Linked DNA regions of Homo sapiens. The protein of the gene in region 1 interacts with the protein of each later gene in a pairwise test. Each region holds a gene or a part of one and is shown on either strand. Other genes may lie near its edges.

Region 1 (10,383 bases):
GAAAGCTTCCTTTGGAGTGGAGTGGATGCTGGAGGATGAGCCAGAATTCACTCAGACAAGAGGGGGAGAAGTGCGAGCAGGCAGGGTAACAGCCTGAGCCAAGATCCCATAGTGGTTTCAGGAACCAGTCCAGGAACACGGAAGGGAGAAGAGTGGGAGAGGTCTGAATGGGGAGGGAGGGAGAAGAAGCCAGTGCAGGGCATTGTAGATGCTTGATCTTTGTTCTAGGAGCAATGGCATTGTCATCAGTGGCATTTATTTGCAGCACAACATGATCTCACATACTTTGGAAAGGGAACTTGAAATCATAGTGGCAGTAGCAATTGTAATATTTGTGATGAGAATAACGATAAGTAACATTTATCAGGTACTCGCTATGAGCTTTCTCTCTTCAGCCTCACAACAACCCAAGAGGCATAGGTTCTGGTATCACTCCTGTTTTATAGGTGAAGAAATGGGGCCCCAGAGAGGGCAAGTAACTAGCCTGAGGCTGCACAGGAAGGACTGGAGCTTGGAGGAGCTAGAAGCTGTGTTTGCAGGCAGTTTAGCTCCAGAGCCCAAGCCCTTAGCCTCCACCAGAGTGCCTCGATTCAGGATACTTCTGTTATGCCACATTAAGGGGTTTGGATTTTGGCTCTGGGCAGCCAGCAGATATTTAAATCTGGGGAACAGTCTTCTGGGAAGGTGCCAAGGAGGGATTTATCCTGATTTTAATCTGCAGTTTGCAAAGGTTCTTGTAATTCTCCTTCTTTAACCTTTGCAAGAGCCATAACCGTGGGAAAGCCTGAGAGATGGCAGAGTTGAGATTGCAGGTGGTGGTAATGATGCAGCGCTAAAGCCAAGCAGAGGAAAGGCAATGAGGATAATTACCAGGTCCCACAGGTTACTAGCAATGTGGAAACAGAACATATGGTAGCTGCAGTGGCCAGAAATCCAGTGCAATCTTTCAGTGTATTTTGGAGGAAAAAAAAAGTCTAAAACTAAAGGGCAAATTCTGCGTTAATGAGCACATGTAGCTCCTGAGAAATGCTGGTGCCTGGTCTTATAGGTCAGGCCCTACCAAAGCCTGTCTGGGGGTTAAGTTTGAGGGAGGTCATGATACTCTGGGACACATTTGGTGAGGACACCAGGAAGGGAGCAAAACTAGAAGTTAAGAGGAAGAGTGACATTGGGAGGAGGGCCTTCCTCCTTGAAAGTGGATGGCTAAGGGCAGCACAGTGGCCCCCTTCACATATTTGGAGGCCGGGATCAATTATTTCTGCAGGAAAGGCATCAGCAGTGGTGGTGGGATCTGCAGGGCAATACGTGGGGACTTAGATTAAGTGGCGTTCATGGCTCTGCTTCATGCTTGGAGAAAAGGGCATCCTCCTGAGGCTGTATACTGCATTCTCTGGAGTTAAACAGAGCCACAGCCACCTGTCTGGAACATGTAGAACAGACTCTTGCACTGGCCTGCTTCTGAGCTGACTTCCAGCTCTAAAATACTCTTCCCGATCACATTTGGTTTTACTAGTGAGGAGAGATTTTTTTTTTTAACTATATCATAAAATTTACCAGCTGGGTACAGTGTCTCAGGCCTATAATCCCAGTGCTTTGGTAGGTCAAGGTAGGAGGATTGCTTGAGCCCAGGAGTTCAAGACAACCCTGGGCAACATAGCAAGAGCCTATCTTTACAAAAAACAAAAATTTTAAAAAATCAGCCAGGTGTGGTGGCACATGCCTGTTGTGCTAGCTATTCAGGAGGCTGAGGCAGGAGGAGCCCTTGAGCCCAGGAATTCAAGGTTATAGTGAGCTATGATCAGCCACTGTACTCCAGCCTGGGTGATAGAGTAAGATTGTGTCTCTCTTAAAAAAAATCTATTTCAGGTGTCCAATGATGATTTTTTAGTGATTGACCTAGTGATGCAATCATCACTATAAATCAGTTAGATGTTTTCATTCCCCTGAAAAGATCCTTCATGCCCATTACAGCTAATCCTTGTTGCTGACCTTACCCCCAGGCAATTGCTAATCTACTACTTTCTGTATCTCTACAATTCTTTTGCTGGACATTTAATGTAAATTGATTCATGCATTATGTATATTCTTGTGTCTGGAGTATTTCATTTATCATGCTTTTGAAGTTCTTTCATGGCATAGCCAGTAGTTTGTTCCTTTTTATTGGCAAATAACTTCCCTGGCTGGGCACAGTGGCTCATGCCTGCAATCCTAGCACTTGGGGAGGCTGAGGCAGGAAGATTGCTTGAACCTAAGAGTTCAAGACCAGCCTGGGCAGCACAGTGAGACCTCATCTCTACAAAAAGTAATTTTAAAAAGTTAGCCAGGTGTAGTTGTGCACACCTGTAGTCACAGTTAGGAGGCTGAGATGGGAGGATCGCTTGAGCCCAGGAGTTTGAGGCTGCAGTGACCTATGATCATGCCACTGCCCTCCATCCTGGGTGATGGAGCAAGACAGAACAAAAAACCAAATCACTTTTTATTTTATGGATGTAGCATATTTTGTTTATCTGTTCACCCATTGATGGACATTTATATTGTTTCCAGAATTTGACTTTCTGAATAAAGCTACGAACATTCCCATGCAAGTCTGTATGGACATAAGTTTTCATTTTTGAGGGATAGAAATCTAGGAGTGGAATTGTTAGGTGATATGGTAGTTTTATGTTGAGCTTTTTGAGAAACTGAGGGAGTGGATTCAGAAGGAACACAAAAGAAGCGACCCTAAGTAGTGACTTGGTGGCCTTGTCTTTGTAACCTGCCAGGTAATCCTCACAGCCAGAACATCAGCAGCAAGCTCACCCATGACACTGTGGAGCAGGTGCGCTACAGGTAAGCATCAGGGACACCTGCCTGACTGGGCATACCTAGGCAGACAGACTTCCTTCCTAGGACTTGCCTGCATCCCACAAAAGTTCTGAGTTGGTTTCAGGAGGATCACAGTTGGCTAAAAGGCAATGCATGTATGTTGAGAAACATCAGAGTCAGAGCTCAGAAAGGCAGCGGTGAGTAGATGCAGTGTGGGGCAGATGAGACACACAGGTAGGTGGCTCTGAGGTGCACACAGCTGTTCTGTGTGGCTCCAGAGACTCTGCAGTGCCAAAGTGACAGGAAGTGACCCAGGATCCTAGGTCTTGTTTTCAGAAAGAAGAAAAGTACTATTTCTCTGGTTTTCCTTTTCATAAGAAGTTTTATTAGGCAACTTGTTTTCTTCCTGTCTTTTTTCCCTTTTCCCCCCTTTTTTACTAGTATTTGTATGTTAAACAGCTCTCTATACTTTCTAAACATAACAGTATCTGGCAAATAATTTCCAGGTTGTCCTTAAAATTATTAACACAATTTCCAATCACACAATTTCAAGTTAGTTCAAATGTGAAAGTGATACTGTTTTGCTATTAGAGTTGCCAAAACTAAAAGCAATGTAAACAGGTTGATTACTACTTAAACCTTGTTATGTTAGAGCTGAGCAGAAAGCACCAAGGAGAGAAAGTAGTATCAACTCTGATTAAGTTTATTGTGGATTTTTTGTCATACATATCCAATTGGAGATATCCAGTGATATTTGGGAGGTAAGAGGATTTTGCCAACTGGAACTCGTTCCCACGGCTTCCATTGCCCTCGCCCTAATTTCGCAGCTGTGGCAAACCTATCTATCCATTAAGGTAGAGATGTCATAGTTAATAGAAATAAAACAGCCTGCAAACATTCAGTGCTGGGGCTGAGATCCGCGGGTTGCGGGGATGCTGTGCTTCTTCCAGAATCCTGGCGCACTTCCACACCACCGCAGAAGACTACACTGTGATCTTCACTGCCGGGAGCACGGCTGCTCTCAAACTGGTGGCAGAGGCCTTTCCATGGGTGTCCCAGGGCCCAGAGAGCAGTGGGAGTCGCTTCTGTTACCTCACCGACAGCCACACCTCCGTAGTGGGTATGCGGAACGTGACCATGGCTATAAATGTCATATCCACCCCGGTCAGGCCAGAGGACCTGTGGTCTGCAGAGGAACGTAGTGCTTCAGCCAGCAACCCAGACTGCCAGCTGCCGCATCTCTTCTGCTACCCAGCTCAGAGTAACTTTTCTGGAGTCAGATACCCCCTGTCCTGGATAGAAGAGGTCAAGTCTGGGCGGTTGCACCCTGTGAGCACGCCTGGGAAGTGGTTTGTGCTGCTGGATGCAGCCTCCTACGTGAGCACCTCGCCTTTGGACCTGTCAGCTCACCAGGCCGACTTTGTCCCCATCTCCTTCTATAAGATCTTCGGGTTTCCTACAGGCCTGGGCGCTCTGCTGGTCCATAATCGTGCGGCTCCTCTACTGAGGAAGACCTACTTTGGAGGAGGGACAGCCTCTGCGTACCTAGCAGGAGAAGACTTCTACATCCCGAGGCAGTCGGTAGCTCAGAGGTAACCTTGCCACAGGGGAGGGGTCAGAGGAGTTCAGCAAGGTGGGGTCTGGCCTGTTTCTCCTGGAGGATTATGCAAGAGGTGGGTCTGGCTTTGAGGGTCAGCAGAATTCAGGTTGCTGGCAGGGACAGGCTGATGGCAGGGCTCAGATCTGGGAGGCAGAAGTTGACTGGAGGTGACACAGGTGTTCAGTGAACTCTACCCCCATTTGAGAGGCTTCTCCAGAGCTGTGAGAGGACTGGGGCCTGCAGATAAGAACTGCACACAGGAGAGATAAAAGGCCCTCATGGGGTAAGGAGGGTGAGCTACCAGGCCTCTGCCCTCAGCACTGACAAGAGGTTGCAACAGTTGAAACAGTGGCCTTAAAAGGTGGCACCCAGTGGCTTTAAAAGGTGGCACCATTTGGAAAAAGTCTGCCCACACATTGACAGCATAGCTGGTTCTCCAGGAGCTAGGATCAGCTCAGCCTGGCACCTAGTTAGCAGGAGGAATCAGTTAAAGCAGAGGCCCCCAGACTTGTGAGGCAGTGTTAGCGGCAACCTCTATGAGCCCCACTGTGAGTGAGTTACAGAGGGAGTCTGGGTGCAGGTTGTCACTTGCCCTCAAATGCCAGAGGCCTCTGCCTGGGTTGTTGGCATATGCATCATCCCCAGGCTGCAAGGGCAGGTGGTGTGGGTTATGCTCAGGACTCTTTCAAATGGTAACAGCTGGGACCTGTAAGGTCGAGTGTGTCAAGGCTGAAAATGGTGGCTGATCCAGGGTTCTGCTGGGTCAACAGTGGGGACACAGGGTTGGGTAGGCAACTAATCACCTCCAGGGTCCGGAGAAGGCCTGGGGCATAGACGGGAAGGGCTTTAGATCCCCAACAGACCCCACACAGACGCAAGGGTCCTGCACGTAGGGCCATGGCCTTGACGATAGAGTCAGTGTTAGCTGTGTAAGCCTCAGGCTGGACCACTGGGGAATGAGTCCCCGCTCCACTGCACACCAGCGAGGGGACATGTGACTTGTTCTCTGCACCTCATGTTTTTTCTGTAAAGTAGAAATGATAATATTGGGTCGGGTGTGGTGGCTCACACCTGTAATCCCAGCACTTTGGGAGGCCAAGGTGGGTGGATCATGAGGTCAGGAGTTCGAGACCAGCCTGCCCAACATGGTGAAACTCCGTCTCTACTAAAAACACAAAAATTAGCTGAGTGTGGTGGTGGGTGCTTGTAATCTCAGCTGCTCAAGAGATTGAGGCAGGAGAATTGCTTGAGCCCAGGAGGCAGACGTTGCAATGAGTCAAGATCATACCCACTGCACTCTAGCCCTGGTGACAGAGCAAGACTCCATCTCCAAAAAAAAAAAAAAAAGAAATGATAATATTGTCCTTTTAGAGCTAACATGGGTGAAGTATCAGAATGGTAGGGATCAATGTTAGGAGGCTATTTGATGCCTCTTTTATTTAGGACTTGTCCATAGTTGGGGGGCTTCTAAAACAGGAATGCTCATGTAAAACCTCTTGACTCCAAGTGTGATAATTTACCATGTAACAGAATCAAATGAGAAAAGAATGACAGGCATAACATAATGTAAGTTACAGGCAGAACAAAGCGACACCTCAAATTTAATTTGGCCAATAAGGGCACCTGAAGGCCAGGAGAAGTGGGGCAGCTCACTGGGGGCCAGGGCATGAATGGGCTGGGGGGGATCAGACCTCTTTCCTTTGATTCAGGTAGATGACTTTACAACAGATGACACGCCAACATTCCCAGAAAGCTGAATTTATTTATTTACCATTATAAGCCAATTTTTTTCTTGTGAACTTAGGACTAGAACTCAATAGATTTAATACTCAACCTAAAGGTTTATTGAATAAATACCTTGACTATGTTCTCAACTTTATTTTATAACTCAGCGAAGTACATCCCTTGACAGAAACAAAAAACTTTTATTTTAAGAAATCTATTAAGTATTTGATCAATAAATAATTGTCAATCAATAACTGGCTAGTTTAACAAATTTTTTTGTAGAGATGGGGTCTTGCTATCTAGAGATGGGGTCTTGCTTTTTGTAGAGATGGGGTGTTGCACAGGCAGGTAGTTTCAAACTCTTGGCCTCAAGTGATCCTCCCACCTGGGCCTCCCAAAGTGTTGAGATAACAGGCATGAGCCACTGCACCTGGCCACCCTAGGAAATTTAGAGCAGCCCAAGAAAACTGCAGAGTGGGTCAGGGCCAGAGGCAGCTGGACAGGTCTTGGTGTACAAAGTGCCCCCATCCTGAAGGGGAGAGCAATGTTTTATAAGACAGCAGAGGGAAGGTATTAATAGATTACAGCGGTATTAGTCCAATTTCACACTGTTATAAAGATACTACCCAAGACTGGGTAATTTATAAACAAAGGAGGTTTAATTGGCTCACAGTTCTGCATTGCTGGAGAGGCCTCAGGAAACTTACAATCATGGCGGAAAGGGAAGCAGGCACTTTCTTCACAAGGCAGCAGGAGAGACAGAGAAGAGCCCAGGGGAACTGCCATTTATAAAACCATCAGATCTCGTGAGAACTCCCTCACTATCACGAAATGAGAACAGCAAGGGGGAAACCATCCCCATAATCCAATCACCTCCTACCAGGTCCATCCCTCAACACCTGGGGATTACAATTAGAGATGAGATTTAGGTGGAGACATAAAGCCAAACCACATCAACAGCTAAGCCTAAAATCTAAAGCTCATTATATACCACGAAATGCACATGGATTGTTTTGACCACAGCTTGACCTGTTCTCCTTACCCCGTGGTTATAGGTTTGAAGATGGCACCATCTCATTCCTTGATGTTATCGCGCTAAAACATGGATTTGACACCCTAGAGCGCCTCACAGGTCAGTGGACATTTCTATCCCTGTGGAATTTGCTCCTGTTGTGTCCTTGAGGGAGCTCTGGCACAGGTGTGATTCAGGTAAAGGAGACAGAGTCTGTGGAAGTGACTGGCACTCCATGTAGTTAAATTTGATTCCTAGTAACTTCAAAACCACTTCAGAGAGCAAGAGAATGAGGTGGGGTTTTTGGATTGTTTTTTGTTTTTTCAGCTAAAATAACATTTTAACAGGTAGAAGACATTCCAAATCAGGAGATTGCTAGCTTCACAGAATGAGAGGAGCATCCCTGGGTCCTGGGAATGGTTACAGATCCTGAGGCCTTTACCTGCTCTTGCCTTTCTGGGTCCTCCCCACTGCCCCACGGGGGAGCTCTGCCTATGAATGAGCTGATGCTCAGAGAGGTTAAACGCCTTCCAGGCCAGGGAGCTGGAAACCAGGAGGGCAAGGATTTAACCCAAGTCATACTGATGCCTAACCATGAGCACCCAACCACTGTGTCTGCCGATGGTCTTCGCATGAGGCATGATTTCTTTCCTGGCCATTGCTCTTTTGTCACAGTAATGGGACCCTTCAGTGCCTTAACCTTAGCCTTAGCCCAACATAGGGGCAGACAGGATTCACGGGAAGAGAGGGTCGCCCTGATGGCAATGCAGGGAGGTGAGTGGGCATGATCTGGGACAAACGGAGTAGTTAATAAATACAGGCAGTGAGTAGTGAGTACTTTCCAAGGAAAGATATTAACAGGGCCCCCAAACTGCAGGTGACAGTGTCTAACAGGTCCAGGTAGCTCGGAATGCAAAGGTTGACTGTACCAGTCCACAATATGGCAAACCCTGATTTTTTTCCTATGTCATTGTTCCTTTTTTAAAAAATAAAAATTGTGGTAAACTATACATAACATAAAACTTACCATTTTAACTATTTTTAAGTGTACAACTCAGTCGTAGTAAATACATTCACAATGTCGTGCCACCATCACCACTATCTATTTCCAGAACTTTACCATACCAAACAGAAACTCTGTACCCATTAAACAATAACTCTCTATTTCCTCCTCCCCTTCCAACCCTTGGAACTACTTTTTTTTCTCTGTGGATTTGCCTATTCTTGGTAACTCATCTAAGTAGAATCATACGACATTTGTCCTTTTGTGTCTGGCTTCACTTAGCACGTTTCCAAGATTCATTCATGTTGAAGCATGTATTCTTCATTGCTTTGTGTAGTGTTAAAATGATTTAAACATTAATAATAAAAACAAACAGCAAAAATATGTTTAGAGGAAAAAACATACATTTTGTGATCTGTTACCAAAGGGTCTAAATATCTAAATGTTTAAGTAACATTATGTATAAAAAAGAGGATGACAGGAATGCCTATGGAAAAATTCTGTTGTTCAGTACTGAAGACCTAAACATTTGTCACAAGGGCAGTACCATCCACTATTTACACACATTTAAAATTATTAATGTGAGGTCCAGGTTTGCCAGTTATAACAAACTTGTTTTCTTAAAAGTGAGTTAGTGGTGCCAGGCGTGGTGGCTCATGCCTGTAATCCCAGCACTTTGGGAGGCTGAGGCAGGTGGATTACTTGAGCCCAGGAGCTCAAGACAAGCCTGGGCAACATGGTGAAACTCCATCTCTGCAAAAAATACAAAAATTAGTCAGGCATGGTGGTGAATGCCTGTCGTCCCAGCTACTTGGGAGGCTGAGGTGAGAGGATCACCTGAGCCCAGGAGGTTGAGGCTGCAGTGAGCTGTGATCATACCACTGCACTCCAGCCTGGGTGACAGAGTGAGTGAGACCGTGTCTCAAAAAAAAAAAAAAAAAAAAGAGTGAATTGAGAATTTACATAAAGCTCATGATTCTCTTGTGTTTCATGATTGATTTGAGGTGGAATGGAGAATATAAAGCAGCACACCTTCACCTTGGCTCAGTATACCTACGTGGCCCTGTCCTCTCTCCAGTACCCCAATGGAGCCCCTGTGGTGCGGATTTACAGCGATTCTGAGTTCAGCAGCCCTGAGGTTCAGGGCCCAATCATCAATTTTAATGTGCTGGATGACAAAGGGAACATCATTGGTTACTCCCAGGTGGGTTTTCTTTCCATCCTGCTGACTTTATTACAACTCATCCTAGTTCCAGACGAGAGCAATGTAGTGTGACAAAGTCCATGCACTGTTGAAGAGGCCACCAGGCCCTCAGCCACATGCCTTTCCACCTTCATTCACCCTCGTTTTTCAGTCCTCTTTACTCAGCCAAAAGTGGTAACTTTCAAATGGGAAGAAAGAGGCCAGTTCTTCTGATGGCAGGTGGGAAACTGTTGGGTCTTTGCCATAGTAGAATAAGCTGTTCACTTCACTTCCTGGTCCACTAAAATGTCCAGAGTTGCACTGAGCACTCAGGCATGGTGGTAGGTGGTTATCAGACGGGGTGTCACAGATGGACAACAGGAACCAAATGTTACTCCCAGAGCAGCACTGTGGGGAATGGATTCAATCGTTGGGTGTTTGGAAGACGGTGCTGGTTTTTCCTTGAAAGCACATCTGCATCCCCATTTTTATTTATTTTTTTGAGGTGGGGTCTCGCTCTTTCACCCAGGCTGGCATGCAATGGCATGATCTTGGCTCACTGCAACCTCCACCTCTTGGGTTCAAGCAATTCTCATGCCTCAGCCTTCCGAGTAGCTGGGATTACAGGCACACACCACCACACCTGGCTAATTTTTGTATTTTTAGTAGATACGGGGTTTCACCATTTTGGCTAGGCTGGTCTCAAACTCCTGACCTCAAGTGATCCACCTGTGTTGGCCTCCCAAAGTGCTGGGATTATAGGTGTGAGCCACTGTGCCTGGCCCACATTTTGTTTTTAACAAAGAAAAAAAGGTTTATTTGGCTCATGGTTCTGTTGACTGGAAGATTGGGCATTGGTGAACACCTTAGGTTGCTTCCACCTGTGGAGGAAGGCAAATGTGAACTGGTATGTGCAGCCAGAGAGGAAGCAAGAGAGAGGGTGAGGGAGGTACCTGGCACTTTATTTTTATTTTATTTTTTCTTCCAACTTTTTTTTTTTTTTTTTTTTGAGATGGAGTCTTGCTCTGTCACCCAGGCTGGAGTGCAGTGGCGTG
Region 2 (10,383 bases), on another chromosome or scaffold:
TAATTGTCTCGTGGAAATAAAGGAAGACATGCATGAACACAAGGACTGTCCCCTGTCCCCACTCTGTCCTTCTAGAGACTGTCTTCTCTTTCTTCCCTCATCACAGCTCTTATCTCTTCCATTTATCACGACTGGGTTTGTTTGTTTATGAAGTCCATGAATGTTAGGGATCACCATCCCCTTCCTGGTAGTCTCAGATTTACCCACTGGTGCCAGAGTTGGAAAAGGCAGGCCTCAGGGCCTCGCACCCTCCCAGCCCCAGGTTCACCTTGGAGACCCTTCTCCTTTCCTGAGTCAGATCCCTTCCACTGTGTCACCTCTCAGTTCTGAGAACACGGAGGCTGCAGCAAGGAGAATCCCTGCAGGGAGCATGGCTTTGCTATTTTCTATGATCCTGATATTTACTGTGGGTAATATTTTGAAATATTTCAATCATGCTAAAAATTATTCACTTCAGGAGAACATGTCAGAGTTTACAGAGCACGCACATGCTTGTTCTCACACTTCATCCTCATGACAAACCTGAGGGAGGGTTATTTTTAAAATGACATTTTATAGAAGAGGAAACTAAGGCACAAAGAGTTGAAGTGGCCTAGATCACTTAAGAGGAAGAGCTCATATCCCATCCTGGAGCTCCCTGGCTCCCAGCCCTCTTCTCTGTGCCCTCTGCCAGCTTGTTTGTCATGGGTCTCCTGTTTTTGAAAATTGGGGGGTGAAATTATTTAATATTTGGATAACATTCTCCCTCTACAGAGGTTCAGAAACACCTGAACAATAGCTACGTTAGGATATAATGGAATACAATGAAGGGAAATGACTAATCCCGGGTCACACTACCTAAAAGAGCCCTGAGCCTGCCCCAATCCAATAATGTACACATGCACGGACACAGACACAGGCTCCCAGGGTGAGAATCACCCCAAATCTTAGCCCCAAATCACATTCCAGAGTTCCCGGCACAGTCTATACCCCAGAGGCTTCCCATCGGTAGTTGACCTTGTGACCTTGAGAGGCGCGTGGCTCTGGGACCCAAGGTGGGCTTCCCTGCCAGGGATCAGCTCTTGTGCTCCACATTGTGTTTCCCTCTTTTTCAGAACGTGATGCCTTTGACACCTTGTTCGACCATGCCCCAGACAAGCTGAATGTGGTGAAAAAGGTGGGAAAGGGGTGCCTGGGATGGACAGAGGGAAGCGAGATGCAACAGAACATTGGGAAAACCCATCCCTGCAGCTTGCGAGCTTCCTGCCAGAACTGGTGGCATCACCTAACCTCTGCACACACAGGGCTTTCCCCCTTGCCATCCATGTACCTGTCTGTTCCTCACTGGATGTTGCACCTGGGCCTTTTCCCCTCCATCAGCATGAACAGCCTGTCTTCCCACCCAGGCTAACCCCAGCAATCTCAGCCTTCCCCACTCCTCACAGAATTCCCTGTCTCCCTGGCCTAGGCACCTGTGCCGAAGAAGGGACAGGAAGGAGAGATCCAGTGGAATCATTTTATTTCAGTTCCCCCACCCAGACACTGGCTCAGACACTCCACCTATCATTCTGCCTCTTGGGACCTCCTTGTTCCTTACACGCCCTGAGTTGTATGGGACTGCAAAGTCGAGCCTGTGGCCCTCCCTGTGCACTCAATGGCCTTTGCAGAGAGAGCTCCTGGGCCCAGGGCTCTTGGCTGGGCCTGATCCTCTGCTTTCACCCTCACCCTTGCCCTCACGGGAGTCACGGAGCAGCCACAGGCTCCTGCACTAGTGCGAGTCCCCAGCTTAGGGCCTGCTTTGCTTCTCTTTTAGACACTCATCACTTTCGTGAACAAGCACCTGAATAAACTGAACCTGGAGGTCACAGAACTGGAAACCCAGGTGGGTGACAGACCCCAGCACAGGTAGAGGCAGGGCCCTGCCCTACAGCCCCTGTTCCAAGTGGCCCACCACACTTGGCCAGGAGGGCTTTCCCAGCTGAGGGGGATGAGGGCATGGGAATCTGTCCTACTCTGAGGGGTGGACTGAGTCTCTGTGGATTTTTTCCAACTTTTTATTATGAAAATTACAAGAATGAATACTCATATACCCTTCACTGGGATGCACCGATTGTTAATATTTGGCCACACCTCTCTCTCTTTCTCTGCACCCCTAAATGCTTGAGCATATGTCTCTCAAGAACAAGCACATTCTCTTAGGTAACCACAACACAATTATCAAAGGCAGGCAGTTTTAACATAATACATTAATCTGTTTAGATTGAATCATATGAAATTGCTGACATTCGACTGTTTTTGTTTTCTGTTTTGTTTTGTTTTTTGAGATAGAGTTTCACTCTTGTTGCCCAGGCTGGAGTGCAGTGGCAAGATCTCGGCTCACTGCAACCTCTGCCTCCCAGGTTCAAGCGATTCTCCTGCCTCAGCCTGCCAGGTAGCTGGGATTACAGGCATGCGCCACCAAGCCCGGCTAATTTTTTGTATTTAGTAGAGACGGGGTTTCACCATGTTGGTCAGGCTGGTCTCAAACTCAGACCTCAGGTGATCCACCCACCTTGGCCTCCCAAAGTGCTGGGACTATAGGCATGAGCCACCGCACCCAGCTGACTGTTCTTAACCTACTAAAATGGCAACATCATGTGGTTAGAAAAAACACTCTGTTCAGATTTTGCCAGTTGTCCAGTTTGCTCACATGCTGCATTTACTTGTCATGTCTCTTTAGTCTCTTTTTAACGTAGAACAACTCCTCGGCCTTTCTTGTTGTGGCACTGACACTTTTTGAAGTGTTCAGGCCAGTTGGTTTATAGACTGTCTTTTCTGCACATATTAGATTCAGGTCATGCATTTTCATTAACAGCACGTCCCAAGTAAGGCTGTGTTCTTCCCGGGGCATCCCAGGAGGAGGCACTCTGTCCATTAGTCCCACTGCTAGTGATAACTTGGATTATTTGGTTAGGATGGTGTTCACCGGATTTCCCTATTATAAAGTTATTTTTCCTCTCTTTATACTTAACTAATCTTTATTGGGGAGATATTTTGAGCCTGATGAATCCTGTTTCCCCACCTCCTTTCATTCTTGGTGAGCTTCTGCCTTATACTTCTCTTTCAGTCATCTGGGTACCTCCTTTTATTTTAAAGACAAATGCCAGCCTGTCGCTGAGCTCCACCTGAGTGTGTCTAGACTGTGTGAAATGAGCTTCATGTACTCTTGTAGGAAATAAGGAATGTTCTGGAAAAGTGACGCTTCCTTGAGTGAGCTAGAATGGGCCCTGGAATGATCAGCTCCGTTTTCAAGGGCAGGGAGTGCTATGACAGGGGTCACTGCCAAGCACTTTGGGTCTCTACAGTTTTATCTACTATTCCTACCAAGTCAGTGGAACCAGCCATGGGAGGTGAGGAGCAGTCTAAGCCTGGCACTCAGAGCTGTGAATGACCCCAACCCTAACCCAAGGTCACCCCTGAGCTCACAGATTGGATTCTTTTACTCCTAACTCCTTCTCACCACAGCTTGAATGAAGCCCAGTTGCTCAGCTCCCACCAGAAGGGCCTTGATTTTGACAGACTCTGGGGTCTGCTCTCCCGTGTCCACCTAGGGTGAGTCATGCTCAGGCCGTTCCCACCTGAGTTGCAGGCCTGATGGATAGAAGCTGGGAGGAGCTACCCTTTTGTTTTTGAGACAGGGTCTTACTCCTGTCATGCAGGCTAGAGTGCAGTGGCACGATCACGGCTTACTGCATCCTCAACTTCCCAGGCTCAGGTGATCCTCCCACCCCAGTCTCCTGAGCAGCTGGGACTACAGGCATGCACCAACATACCCGGTTAATTTTTTTGTATTTTTAGTACAGACAGGGTTTCACCATGTTGCCCAGGCCAGTCTGGAACTCCTGAGCTCAAGCGATCCGCCTGCCTCAGCCTCCCAAAGTGCTGCGATTACAGGCATGAGCCACCGCACTCGGCCAGAAGCTGCCTTTAAGGCAAGCGCAAGCTCAGGGTCTTGTGCCCTTAATGACGGCTGAGCCGCAGGCCGGCTAGCTGGCTACCTGGAAAGCTCTCTGAGCAGACTCTGGGCTCCTAAGGTGATTCCAAGAAATGTGGCCTTCTCTAAACCCCAGCAGCTATATACACTCATAAACATTTGGTGGCCCAGCCTCCTTTGAAAGGGTTCTAGAATGTCGGATGTGCATCTGACCTCTATGTCTTTGCTAGGCCATCCCCCCTACCTGGAACCCCCTACTCCTCCCAAGGTCCATCATCCCCGGCCTCCACAAGCCTGTCCTGAGCCCTCAGTGTATGCTCACTTCACCCAGCCCTAAGCAGAAGACCAGCAGCCTCCGCACTTAGCTGAGGGACTCTCCTGTCCCTTGGGCCTGGTTTCCCAACCCATCTGGCCTCTTCTGCCTAGGAAGGGACCGGGCTGCAAGCCTCCTGCCAGGGCCCTCAGCACATAGTTCTGCTTTTGCCAGCAAGAGCAAGTAAGTCATGTCCTGATTGCTTTGTTGTTTTCCCAGACAGTAATAGCAACATTTAATATTTATTCAATGCTACATGCCTAGCAGTTTACAGGCCCTCTCTGCATATTTAACTGGCTTAGTCCTCACGATAACTCTGTGACATAGATACTATTCTATTACCATCCCTGTTTTACAGATAAGACATATGAGTACAGAGAAGTGACATAACTTGCCCAAGGCATATAGCTAGTAGGTGAGAGAGCTGGAATTTGCACCTGGGAGGCCTGGCCCCAGAGCCCACATTCATAACAGCTGCACTCTGCTGCTGTAATACTGAAGAGAGATGGGAGAAAGAATGCCCAGCCCTGTGTGACACTAGTCCTTTCTCTGTTCAGAAAGCACAGATCTCCCCAGGAACCTCATGCCATTCACCTTGGACATCACCTCCCCCTCCTCCCTCTGTCCCACTCTAGCCAATCCTGCTCATCCTCAGCTCTCCACTCAGGCTCTGTCCCCTCCAGAAGACTCCTCTGATGCCTTCAGTGCTTGTGGGCGACCTTTCTCAACCTCACTCAGGCCAGCGAGCTTCCTTCCATCAGAGCAGCTGTGCCTTGCCCCCACACCAGTTTCCCTATTAGACTGTGTACTCCTCCAGGGCAGGAGCCACACTGACCACCCCCCACCCCCCACCCCCCACCATGCTCTGGTCCCCATGCCTAGACCAGGAGTTGGTACACAGCCTCTGTTCAGTAAATGCTGGGTCAGCTGAGATCAGGGCCTGGGCTTGTGGCTCCTGTGCCAGCCAGACGTGGGGCAGAGCAGACCTCCTTGTCTCGGGCCACTGCCCCTACCCCCGAGCTAGCAGCCTGGCTGGGGTGGTAGGCTTCAGGTGGCATAGCACAGAAGTTGATGGGCCCCCTGGATGGGGATTGGCTGGGAGGCTCAGGGGCCAGTGCCATCACCTGGCTCTTCCTCCAGTTTGCAGATGGGGTGTACCTGGTGCTGCTCATGGGGCTCCTGGAGGGCTACTTTGTGCCCCTGCACAGCTTCTTCCTGACCCCGGACAGCTTTGAACAGAAGGTAAGGAGAAGGGACATCAAGGGAGGCCCCCTAGCCCACATCCCCTGACTCATGTGCCCACACCCATGCTGGGGCTATCCAGAAAAAAGGCAGAAGCTTCCCCTCTGCTCAACGTCTTCAGTGCCTGGAGGTGGGACCCATTATAAGAGCTGAGCTGGGAAGGAGCTACCTGCAGACCACTGGGCATCCCTGACTGCCTTTCCCTTGCCCTGAAGCCTGGCCCGGGTCCCCTGCCCTGTGTCCCTGTCAAGTGCCCCAGCCCAGCCTCCTCTCTCCCCAGAGATGACAAGGAAAGTGACTGTGAAGCTGGTCAGCCCTGAGGCTCATGCTTAGCCTGGTTCTGATGGCCTCTCGTAGGCTGCCACATCCTGCTCGCTACACAAAGGCATTTGACCAGAAAGCCTGCTCTGCCTGTTGAACATGTCCTGCCATCTGATTCTTCCAGACGTGTGCACTGACACCCCCAATTTGAAGTCCTGGCAGTTTACACAGGAACACAGTAGGATATGAAGGGAGTTTTGTGCTTCTCCAGGAGTGCTTCTCCCAACAGCAAGCTAGGATCAGCTAGCTCACGCTCCAGGTGGCCTGCCCATTTTGGTAGCCATATTTCTCCTTGAAATTAGTTCAGCCTCTGTCCCTCTGGCTACAGTGCTGGGCTCCTTCACTTCCCAGGGCCAGGTCCTGGGGCTCCTGGGTGTGCAATGGTACATGCTGTCTGCATCTCTCTTGCCAGGTCTTGAATGTCTCCTTTGCCTTTGAGCTCATGCAAGATGGAGGGTTGGAAAAGCCAAAACCGCGGCCAGAAGGTACTTTGCTCTTTCCTGGGTTTGTGACAACAGAGTGAGACCCTCTCCCTGCACATGAGTACTCAGATTTTGTAGCAGAGGGAAGCATTTTCTGAAGCCTTCGTTGCTGGGGAAGGTGGGACTCGGTGCAGCTGCTCAGTCCCAGAGACCCTTTGTGAGCTGCCAGCTGCACAGCCAGGGGAAGAAAAGAATCTGAAATCCCACACATGCCATGCGTGGGATCGCGGGGATCAGGGACCGAGCAGAACTGCTGCTGCAGGAACTGCCCTGTGCCCAATTTCCAGGTTTTCCTGTCCCTGCACAGGGTGCTGACCTGCCAAAGAGCTGTGTCCCCGCCAGTCGGGGTGAAGGTGCAGCGCAGACAGTTCTGGGCTGAGCAAAACTGCTTCTCTCCTTACAGATGCGGAGCTCTGCCTGCTCAGACTCTGTCTGAGGACAGGCCATGATTTGTGGGGTTTGGGTTGTAAATATAAGTCTGAGGGGAAATGCAGAAGGGACAAGTGCTTCTGCAGCCCCTGCATACTCCTGCTAGGAGTGCACACGTGCATTCGTGAGCAGAGGAGGCACGCTTCTCTTAGTAGTCTTGGTACGGATGATTGCTTTCTGCCCCTTACTGACTGAAGTATTCCATTTCACCAGAGCTGGCAGGTCACCACTGTGTTGCAGATAATCTCCTGCATATGTCCCCTGGGAACACTGAGAATGCCATCTGTGGCCCTTTTGCTCGCACTTTTCTGGTAGTTTATAGGCAAGTGGATGAGTAGGAATGGTGGGCTCTCATGCCCCCTTCCTGCCTCTGCTCTGAGCTCCTCTATCCAAACCCCCACCTAGTGGGGGCCATGCCCTGGTCTAGTGGGCTTGAGACCCTGTAGACCATGATATAACAAGAGGGGTAAGACCTTCCTGAACCTCAAGGCACGTGTAGCCAACCAGGGAAGAGAAAAGTTGGAGCCAGTTAGCAAAATGAAATGACAGTCATGGGAACTGTTACGAAAGAGGTACAAGGAAGAGTCTGTGAGGACTGAGGAGGTGATACCACTTCTGTCTTGGGGGAGGAACAGTTTGATGGAGACAGTGGGGCTCAACCATAAGGACCAGGTAGGGCTTTGGTGTATGGAGACTGGGAGAGAAGTGTGTGCATGCCAGACAGAATGACAGCATGAGCAAAAGTCCCCCCGGGGAAGAATGGGGACCCTGTCTCATGACTCCTTCCAGACTCGTTATCTATTGACTCTAGCCAACAAAGGTCAACTCCTGTTCTCATTTATTACCACCTTGTCCTAAGCCCCTGGTCAACTGAGACCTGGGGGAGGACCTCTAGCAAGGCTGGTGTCCCCCTGGGGCTCTCTCTTTGGCAAGGCCACTCCAGCCTTCCTAATGCCATTAGGAATGGACTCTTCTTGTTCTGTGGGCAGATGATGAGCACCCTGCTTCTGGGAGGACAGACACAGTGAGAAAGTTCCGACCATCATTTTGCTTCCACTTTCTTCAACCACTTAATATGAAACTTCCTGGTTACAGATTGGAAGTACTTCTGCTATTTTAGAATTGGGATATTTCTTTCCCTTGGGACAGATAATTTTCCCAATATAAATCAATCTATGGGAATATTTTGGAATATAGGTGATATTTTTATGCAATTATTAAGTTGCTGAATGTGAAACTAACAGACTGATGTGGATGGAAAAACACGTGTTTTATTTGTTATGACACAGGGCATTATGCCCATGCTGCAAATTTCCAGTACGTAAAGGGGAATGGAAATAGCATTTTATGAAATTGTACTTTGAAAGAAGTGAATCCCAGCATTCCGTCTGGTTTTTATGCTTCTACCTGGAAAGTGAGATTTGGAAGTAAATGATGCAGACATTTCAAAGGGTGCCAATGTGGGTAATTCTTTGAGGGCATTTCAAAATCAAACTGGTTGTGGTGGAGGCATTTTTCATGGCAACATGTTTTTAAGGTCAGGAAAATGCATTCTCTGCTGTGCTGTTTAACACTCAAAGCTCTGTTGTGCCTTGAAATCCCCTAGAAACTGGGTTTGTATCTGAGATGACTTGCTGCCCAGGCTTCATGACCGTTTAGTGCCTGAGTTAGTGTAAGCCAAGGGTTAGCATCAAGTTCCTAACCAGTGGAGCAGTCGAAATAATGGCCAGGCATGGAAGCTCACACCTGTAATCCCAACACTTTGGGAGGCCAAGGTGGGCAGACGGCTTGAGCTCAGGAGTTTGAGACCAGCCTGGGCAACATAGTGAGACCCCACCTGTACAAAAAATACAAAAAAATTAGCCAGGTGTAGTGGTGCATGCCTGTGGTCCCAGCTCCTCGGGAGGCTGAGGTGGAAGGGATCGCTTGAGCCTGGGAGGCGGAAGTTGCACCACTGCACTCCAGCCTGGGCAACAAAGTGAGACCCTGTCTCAAAGAAAGGAAAAAAGGAAAGAAAAAGAAATATTGTCATGCAGCTGGCAGCTTTTTATTTAGGGCATCGTGCCACATGTCTTCAAATGCACATGTCCACCCTGTTATCACCTTTCAAGTAGACTCATCATCAATTATGGTTAAGACTCCAGAATAACAGGCAGGCAGGGACTCAGAAGACATCTAGTACCAGGCAGGATTGAAGTCTGTAGGACTAAATATCTAAAATTTAAGGAGTCTCATACCTGGGACCAGATGGCAAGCAATGCTGAAAAACCAAGCAGGTTATGGCAGCTTAGTTCCAGGTGATCACTTCATTTGGGGAAGACTTGGTCAGTGGCTGATAACATGGAAAATGTTCAACTCCCCCATTCCCCTAGGAGATAGTGTACAGAAGCCAATGGTGACAAACATTTAAAACTCTAATCATACCAAGTGTTAGCAAGGATGTAGAGCAACAGAAACTGCTGGTGTTCTAAATTGCTAGAACCATTTTATTTTTATTCAGTCCCTATTTAGCCGAAAGTAGAAAACAGTTTGTTCTCATCTAACATAGTTGAAGATTTGTAATACGCTATAAAATAATGTGGTAGACACCCCCTGCCAAAATAATGTGGTCTCCACCCCTGGCCAAAAACGTCCAGGTCCTAATCCTCGGTACCTGTTCATGTGTTATCTTACATGGCAAAAGGGACTTTGCAGATGTGATTAAATTTAGGGTCTTGAGATGATGACATTATCTAGGTGGTCCCAATGTCATCACAGGGGTCCTTATTATAAGTCGAAGTGGGAGGCAGGAGTGTGAGGGTGATGTAGCATAAGAAAGGCTCACCCAACCATTGCTGGCTTTGGGGATGGAAGAGGTCTATGAGCCAGAGAATGCAGGCAACCCCAGAGGGTTAGAACATGAGTAACTAACTGCCTTATGGCCACCTAACTTATTCCATCCCCCACTTGGAAAGAACAAGTGTAACGATCTCCATTTCGAGCCTCCAGAAAAAAATGCAGCTGTGCTGACACCGTGATTTTATCTCAGTGAGATGGATTTGGGGCTTTTGATTTCTAGAATTCAGAGATAATACATTTATGTTGTTTTTAGGCCACCAAATGTGTGCTAATTTACTACAGCAGTAATAGGAAGTTAGCACACTCCTTGACTTAGCAATTCCATTCATAGGTACGTATGTCCATACACCAGGAGACAAGCCCAAGAATACCCATGATAGCATAGGCTGGAGTGTACATCCCAGTAGACTAGCTACATAAATTGAAGCATATTCATATCATGGATTATAATACAACCATGACAATAAAAAAGACTGAACTGAGAAGTCAGGGCAGGAACTTCTAGTTACTGTAGCCTGAAGAGATCAGTGACTATTCTCTGCAAAAAAGCAAGTGTAAAACTGGACAAAAATCATCAAAACAATGATTTTGAAGCACTGAAAACCTACCAGAGGTAGACAACAAATCAAGAGCTTTATTCTTTTTTTTTTTTTTTTTCTTGAGACGGAGTTTCGCTCTCCAGGCTGGAGTGCAATGGCGTGGTCTCGGCTCACTGGAACCTTCCCCTCCCAGGTTCAAGAGATTCTCCTGCCTCAGCCTCCCAAGTAGCTGGGATTACAGGCTGCCACCACCACACCCAGCTAATT

What was found.
Region 2: the proteins of MOCOS (region 1) and PARVA interact in binary tests that used the Homo sapiens proteins (3 or more experiments, as listed by UniProt).

Annotation. Positions count from the first base shown.
Region 1 is NC_000018.10:36,195,928-36,206,310, forward strand, and holds part of MOCOS (molybdenum cofactor sulfurase), read left to right. Parts: intron 1-2,762; coding exon 2,763-2,829; intron 2,830-3,755; coding exon 3,756-4,397; intron 4,398-7,185; coding exon 7,186-7,262; intron 7,263-9,149; coding exon 9,150-9,349; intron 9,350-10,383. UniProt on the Homo sapiens protein: Sulfurates the molybdenum cofactor. Sulfation of molybdenum is essential for xanthine dehydrogenase (XDH) and aldehyde oxidase (ADO) enzymes in which molybdenum cofactor is liganded by 1 oxygen and 1 sulfur atom in active form.
Region 2 is NC_000011.10:12,512,205-12,522,587, forward strand, and holds part of PARVA (alpha-parvin), read left to right. Parts: intron 1-1,094; coding exon 1,095-1,156; intron 1,157-1,792; coding exon 1,793-1,861; intron 1,862-5,405; coding exon 5,406-5,507; intron 5,508-6,240; coding exon 6,241-6,313; intron 6,314-10,383. UniProt on the Homo sapiens protein: Plays a role in sarcomere organization and in smooth muscle cell contraction. Required for normal development of the embryonic cardiovascular system, and for normal septation of the heart outflow tract.